Linked DNA regions of Homo sapiens. The protein of the gene in region 1 interacts with the protein of each later gene in a pairwise test. Each region holds a gene or a part of one and is shown in the gene's direction. Other genes may lie near its edges.

Evidence for each region. The genes of interacting proteins can lie anywhere in the genome.
Region 2: the proteins of ZNF417 (region 1) and TXNDC11 interact in binary tests that used the Homo sapiens proteins (3 or more experiments, as listed by UniProt).

What each region holds. Positions count from the first base shown.
Region 1 is NC_000019.10:57,909,695-57,914,043, reverse strand, and holds part of ZNF417 (zinc finger protein 417), read left to right. Parts: intron 1-1,854; coding exon 1,855-1,984; intron 1,985-3,929; coding exon 3,930-4,349. UniProt on the Homo sapiens protein: May be involved in transcriptional regulation.
Region 2 is NC_000016.10:11,683,858-11,687,357, reverse strand, and holds part of TXNDC11 (thioredoxin domain-containing protein 11), read left to right. Parts: intron 1-3,112; coding exon 3,113-3,193; intron 3,194-3,500. UniProt on the Homo sapiens protein: May act as a redox regulator involved in DUOX proteins folding. The interaction with DUOX1 and DUOX2 suggest that it belongs to a multiprotein complex constituting the thyroid H(2)O(2) generating system.

The sequences.
Region 1 (4,349 bases):
TGGCCATATGAAGAGTCAGTGACCAATAAATGGTGGCATTAAATGGATAACTAGACATACAGGATGGGGTATCTGGGAGGGTGTTGATACTGGAGACATCCAATATTTGAAAGCTAATGGGTGAACTTCAGTAAGTTAGTTATGGGTCCATTTAGGAGGACATGCTTCAGATTTTGGTGGTAAATCTTTTCAGGGGCCAGGAAGGTGTGACTACAGGCTGAGGAGTGGATCTCTTACTTACGTCCCTGAGTGATGTTATTGGGCTTCCTAAACACCTGAGAGGGTGTGAGTGAACATCATGGCAGGATGTATCAGACAGTAGAGTTTGGAAGGGGACATAGACATCCGAGGAGAGAATAGATGAGATAGATGCATGCAGAAGCATAGGAGTAAGGAAGATGACACTTCTGCCTGAGTTGGTGCCAAGTTGTAACTATTTATCACTGTCTGGATTCATAAACGTTTTGAGATGACTTTGGGAGTGCCTGGAGAGTTTCATTCAGCTTGGTGCATGTGGGCAGTGAAAAATATGCTCATCTGTGATAGTAGATGTGGTTTGGTTCACAAATCCAGGGGCTGGGCTTTAAACAGCATTAGATGGACAGAGGAGGGTTGCTACAGCTGAGGTCTCAGCTGGTGCAGCACAAAAGTGAAATAGGTCCATGGATATCTGAAGCCATATGTGGTTCTGTGTGGCTATGGAGTCATTCCGGGAGACGTTCACAGGATGATTTGGGATTACCACTGCTATTGTAAACCATGGAAATTCTGTGTTAATATTGGATCCTATTTGTATTTGTCAAGCATAGTCTGGATGCTTATCCACATTTTGGTATAAGGCCAGAATTGAAGGCCCAATATGATGTGTCACTTTGACATCTTGTGAAAGTGGGACAACCTTAAAAGGTGTGAGTACAAATCTCATTCCCACTCTGCTCTCTTGAATAATGTATCCTAGCCTAACAGCCCGTTTTATCAAGGTGATAAGGCAGGGTTCCAGGTTGTTATATTTTGTGGTGGGTTTCAATTCCATCCCTACCAGCAGAGTTATGGAAACAAACCATTGCATATTCCCAAGGGAATCATGGGCCGTTATACCCTCTTCATCTTGTGAAATAATTTTATTTGTGGGGGCTGGGTGCAGTGACCCACCCCTGTAATCTCACTTTTGGAGGCCAAGGCGGATGGATCACTTGAGACCAGGAGCTCAAGACCAGCCTGGCCAACATGGTGAAACCCCCTCTCTACCAAAAAAAAAAATACAAAAATTAGCCGGGTATAGTGGTGCGTGGCTGTAATCCCGGCTACTTGGGAGGCTGAGGCACGAGAATCACTTGAACCCAGGAGGCGGAGGCTGCAAAGAGCCAAGATCATGCCACTGCACTCCAGCCTGGGTGACAGAGCTAGACTATGTCTCAAAAAAAACCCCAAAAAACAAAGTTCTATTTGTGGGGATGCCAGAGAGAGGCTGATGGTAGGGAAAACTCAGGTAGGGGTGGCCATGGGGATGTGTCTTTGCAGTATAAAGAATGATGTATATTTAGAGAGGGAGTTTGTCCAATGGGCTCAGGCAGCTGCCCTGGGCTTTACATGAGCTTGGATATCGCTATTCAGAAGGGGATGGACCTTTTTATGTCAGGACCTCAGCATGGATACCTATTTGTCCACTTACTGCTTATTGCTGATGGCAATTGACCAGTGGGCCCATGAAGAGACAAAGGCACTAGTGGACATAGTTTCAACACTATGTTGGGGACCTTGGGAGGAGGATGGGCAAGTGTGGGTGTGTGGGAGAGGTGGGTTGTGGTACCTCAGCAGAGGGGCTGTTTGTGGTTTCATCTGTCACTATCATAGCAGGGCACTGTGACCTTTGAAGATGTGGCTGTGAACTTTTCCCAGGAGGAGTGGTGTCTTCTTAGTGAGGCTCAGAGGTGCTTGTACCGTGATGTGATGCTAGAGAACCTGGCTCTCATATCCTCGCTGGGTAAGTTGCTCACGCTCACCTTTGTGACCTGAGCTAGTGTTACTGTTCCCCTGTTTTTCATTGACAGGACTGTCTTTCTCACTTAAGGAGCCTGGACACAGGTTCCTTCTACACTTCTCTATGTAAGTTGTGTGTATTGCCTTTTCCTTTCCTTAAGCACCTCCAACACCTGCTTTGCTCCAGGCTCCCAGGGAAGGAGTCAGAGTCAGGAGTCTAATAGGCACCTAAGTGTATCCACTTTGCCTGCTCTCTGGCTGTCAGGTGACTGTCCAAATCGGTAGCTCTTGTGTGCCCAGGTTCTATTAACACTTCCTTCCTCTATCTGACAATGCTTTGTGCCTCCCTGTGCCAAGAATTGCCTTCATTGACATTGTCACTACCTACATAGACCATAGACCATAGACTCTTCTTGCAAGACCCTGCTTAGGAATTCTTTTGTAATACTTACCTTACTCTCCTGTGGGCTGTCAGGTGCTTAGTTGTCCTGAGCTAGTGTTGGCTGTTCATCTCTGCTGTCTCTCCCTTCATAGTTACATCGTCGGGTCCTATGTACTGGGTGTGAGATGGAGAGACCTCCATGTTTGACAAGATGTGGTTCAATTCAGGCTCATCACGATAGGCTCAAAGGGAGCCTGTCCCTCAGGAGTGCCATGCTGGGGGAGGGCATGACTTCAGGGGTTTATCCAAATCATACCAGAAACCATTTATATTTGCCAAGTGTTTTTGTGGCAATATGAGTAGGCACACACTATTTGTCTTTTTCTCCCCATTGTTGAGAGTTTCACACGTGTTAGTTCTGTACCTTTTCACTTCTACTGTGATATCCACCCCAGCACTAATACTCACATCTCACCCATTTTTCTTGTGCTTTCATCTGCACTTGTCTCTGATATTGGTGTATCGATTACATATTAGGAAGTGTATGCCCTATGTTAAACCATCCATGACCACCCTCTGCTGTGTTGTACTCATGTTTTCTTGGTCTTGACATATGCTTCTATATTTATATTTTTTGAGATGGAGTTTCGCTCTTGTTGCCCAAGCTGGAGTGCAATGGCACAATCTTGGCTCATTGCAACCTCTGCTTCCCAGGTTGAAGTGATTTTCCTGCCTCAGCCGCCCAAGTAGCTGGGATTACAGGCCTGCACCACCACACCTAGCTAATTTTTTCTTTTTTTAGTAGACACAGGGTTTCACCGTGTTAGCCAGGCTCGTCTCCAACTACTGAACTCAGGTTATCCACTTGCCTCACCCTTGCAAAGTGCTGGGATTACAGGCATGAGCCACCGCGCCCAGTCCATATGCTTCTACATAGCACTCACATGTCATTAGGAGATAAGGTCCCGTACACAACTTGTGTTTAGAGGAAGGAGCTGTGGACCCTGCCTCTACTCCCTGTGTTGCCTGTATGCTTGTGCTCTTTACATCATGAGGCCTCCTGGATTCTGTGACCTTTATAGCCCAGTAATGCTAGGCAGCTCATTCTTCTTTTTATTATTATTATTATTATTTTGAGATGGAGTCTCGCTCTGTTATCCAGGCTGCAGTGCAGTGGTGCGATCATGGCTCAATGCAAACCTCCACCTCCCGGGTTCAAATGATTCTCCTGCCTCAGCCTCCCGAGTGGCTGGGATTACAGGCGCTCACCACCACATCCAGCTAATTTTTGTATTTTTAGTAGAGATGGGTTTTCACCATGTTGGTCACGCTGGTCTCGAACTTCTGACCTCAGGTGATCCACCCGCCTCAGCCTCCCAAAGTGCTGGGATTACAGGCGTGAGCCACTGCGCCCGGCCAGCAGCCCCATCTTCAACTTGAAGCCAACATTGTGTTCCTGCAAATATTTCTATAGATTAATTCCTCAATTTGTGAGACGTACTTGTGGGTGGGCTGTGCCTTCCCGTCAGAGGTACTTTGCACTTGACCAGCATTTTCTTGCTCTCAGGTTGTTGGTGTGGATCAAAAGATGAGGAGGCACCTTGTAAGCAGAGAATTTCTGTACAAAGAGAGTCTCAGAGCAGGACTCCTAGGGCAGGTGTTTCTCCTAAGAAGGCTCACCCCTGTGAAATGTGTGGCCTCATCTTGGAGGATGTTTTTCACTTTGCTGACCACCAGGAAACTCATCACAAGCAGAAGCTGAACAGGAGTGGAGCATGTGGAAAAAACTTGGATGACACTGCATACCTTCATCAGCACCAGAAGCAGCATATTGGAGAGAAATTCTACAGAAAGAGTGTCAGAGAAGCATCGTTTGTAAAGAAACGTAAGCTCAGGGTGTCACAGGAGCCATTTGTCTTCCGCGAGTTTGGGAAGGACGTTCTGCCCAGTTCAGGATTGTGCCAAGAAGCAGCTGCTGTAGAGAAGA
Region 2 (3,500 bases), on another chromosome or scaffold:
GGCTCAAATACAGAGTCTTTAGATGGGGTAGTAAGCAGTTTTGGGTGAGGAAAACTGTTCACATTTAACCCCCCACCTCCCCCAAAACCCTACAGATAGATAAGAGTTAAATATAAAAAAATCAAAACAAAAAATAGGATTTGCTGATTCCTCTGGGAGATGGAAACTTTCCAAAGTGGAAGCAGTTGGAAAAATAAAGAGAGAAAAATGGACAGATTCCACTAGAAATACGTGCAGTGAAAACAGGGAAAGCAGACAAAAAGGGGGACCATTAATATATTTTCCAGTGTCTCTGTGTCACCTGTTATATGCACTGTAAGTAATAATTAGAATCAAATCTGAGGAGTTACTATGTTGGGAGAGTTTTTGATATACATATTACCTGACTGAGTCCTTGCGACGCTTAGTGAAGGCACTCTAGTTAAAAAAAGAAAGTGCTATTTGTGTTGAGGAGGAAACTGAGACATAGAAAGATTCGACAAGTTGCCCAGAGTTTCAAGCTGCAAATGAGGGGCCAGGATTAAATCAGGCATTCATACTCCAGCCTCCCCGGAAATTAAAATGGTTTAGAAGATGGCTGAGACCGATTCCATTCTGAACAAAGGATGTGAGCAGGTTTTTCTTTTAAGAGGAGAGAGTAAATAAACAAGTGGGGAAATTATAACCTAATAAATGTAAATTAAAACAGTAACAAAGTATCATTTAACATATTAAAGTAATCAGTGGTTTTAAGTGACAGAATCTTGTGTTGATAAAATAAAATGGAAACTGCAGTCAGATGTATCTAATGGAATGAGTACATTGCCATAACTCTTTTGGAAAGCATTTTGGCAACATTTACAAGAAATCAACAAAAACAGTTAACACATTTTTGACCCAGTTAATTTTACTTTGGAGAAGTAATGGAATAGGAATTCCGAAGAAGCATGAGCTCATCATTATAGCATTGTTTACATCCACCAGGAGATGAATGTTTAAGTAAATTATGGCTGGGCATTTAATGGAATTTTTATCCTTCAACAGTGCTTTTCATACAGTTAATGGAAAAGAACAGAGTATGAAATATATGACAACTCTTCTTAAAAATATGTAAGGATATAGGCGAGGTGCAGTGGCTCATGCCTGTAATCCCAGCATGTTGGGAGGCCGAGGTGGGCGGATCACCTGAGGCCAGGAGTTCGAGACCAGCCTGGCCAACATAGTGAAAACCTGTCTCTACTAAAAATAAAAAATTAGCCAAGTGTGGCGGCACGTGCCTGTAGTCCCAACTACTCAGGAGGCTGAGGCAGGAGAATCACTTGAATCCAGCAGCCGGAGGTTACAGGGAGCTGAGATTGCACCACTGCATTCCAGCCTGGGCGACAGAGCAAGACTGTGTCTCAGAAAAAAAAAAGTAAGCATATAGACCAAGCCTGCAGCCTGCATAAGAAAGGGGGGCCTTATTTAGCCCAATGGAATTCTGAGTGGATTTTTACAATGTTTTAATTTTATAGTTTGCTTTCTTTGAAGTAAGAATCAAGTGAGAAAAAGCATTTAATTATGGAATATAGTGTTCACTCCCACTTGTTTAGAAAGGAACACTAATGTTTTAGGTAGGCTGGCACAGGTGAGGCAGGAGTGCTGTTTTGTTAGTAAACTTTTGGTAAATGGTTTTCATTTGGTTATGCCTTTTGTTGCTGTTGTTGTTTTTTGTTTTTGTTTTTTTTTTTGAGATGGAGTCTTGCTCTGTTGCCCAGGCTGGAGTGCAGAGGTGCAATCTCAGCTCACTATAAGCTCCGCCTCCCGGGTTCACGCCATTCTCCTGCCTCAGCCTCCCGAGTAGCTGGGACTACAGGCGCCCGCCATTATGCCCAGCTAATTTTTTGTATTTTTAGTAGAGACGGGTGGCGTTTCACCGCGTTAGCCAGGATGGTCTCGATCACCTGACCTCGTGATCTGCCTGCCTCGGCCTCCTAAAGTGCTGGGATTACAGACGTGAGCCACCACGCCCGGCGTTGTTGTTTTTTTGAGACAGGGTCTCACTCTGTTGCCCAGGCTGGAATGCAGTGGTGCAATCACAGCTCACTGCAGCCCCAACCTCCCAGGTTCAGGTGATTCTCCCACCTTCCCAAGTAGCTGGGACTACAGGCATGTGCCAGAATACCCGGCCAATTTTTTGTAGAGACAGGGTTTCCCCATGTTGCCCAGGCTAGTCTCGAACTCCTGGGCTCAAACAGTCCACCCACCTCGGCCTCCCAAAGTGTTGGATTTACAGGCGTGAGCCCCTGTGCTCAGCCTGGTTGTGCCATTTTTTGAAAAGCAAATTTCATCCTTTTGGACACATACATGACACTTACCGCACCCTCACTCCCCCCAGTTATGCTTTCTAAAAACTTCTGTCAAGGTAAAGATTGAAAACATGTTCATCTTTTGTGTGCACTGTTTATGAATAGTAGCTGAATAGCCCCTCCGCAAGGAGGATGCAGCCCCTTCCATAAAGGATGCTGTTGTGGCTCCATGTCTGCTTAGCCCGAGTGTGGGCGCCCAGCTGTGTGCCCAGCTCTGTGCCAGCTGCCCGGGGCAGGCCTCTAGAGCAGTTGCGGTTAGCTCCCACAGTGATTGAGCACAGGCTGGGTGAGTTAGTACAGATGTCATTTTCTGTATTAGAAAATTAATGTCAAATCTGCTAAGAAAATAGGCTGTTTTTGGTCTCTATCCAGATTTACAACATAAAGAGGGTATAATTTTCCATCTTCAGAGGGGCTTGATGTATTTTGCTCAATGATTTCCTTTCTTTTCCCAGAGCTATTCAGGGATTAAAATACTTGGCTAGATCCTGTCAGGTGAGGAGTGAATGACTCCTCAGGTGTCAGTGCGGCATTTTCTGCAAGTTCATTTTTACTTTCAGGACATCACATTGCCACTCAGTGGAAAGCGTCCACGTAGTAGAATGTTGTATGTCTTGGAAGTATCAGCGCCCAGCTCACACCTGGTAGTACATTCATCGAGAAGGGACTAGCCCAATGTGGGGTGTAAAAAATGCACCAGGTTCTTGAAGTTATCTGAGAAGGTTCTTTCAAGTTGGTGTTTCTTGGGCTGATCATCTGCCATTTCTGTTCTTTCCCTTTACCAGGATTGACGTGTCTCAGAATGACCTTCCTTGGGAATTTATGGTCGATCGTCTTCCTACTGTCTTGTTTTTTCCCTGCAACAGGTAATGCCAAATTTTTGTCACTGGTGGGCAGTTGGGATTCTTTTGTGGAGGTCTGAAAATGAAATGGGTTTAAGATGTAAATCATTCATTATGTTCAAAAAATGTTCCCTTAGGAACCAGGCGTGGTGGCTCATGCCTGTAATCCCAGCACTTTGGGAGGCTGAGGCAGGCAGATTGCTTGAGCTCAAGAGGTTGAGACCAGCCTGGCCGACATGGTGAAACCCCATCAGTACAAAAAATACAAAAATTAGCCAGGCATGGTGACATATGCTTGTAATCCCAGCTACTCTGAGGCTGAGGCACGAGA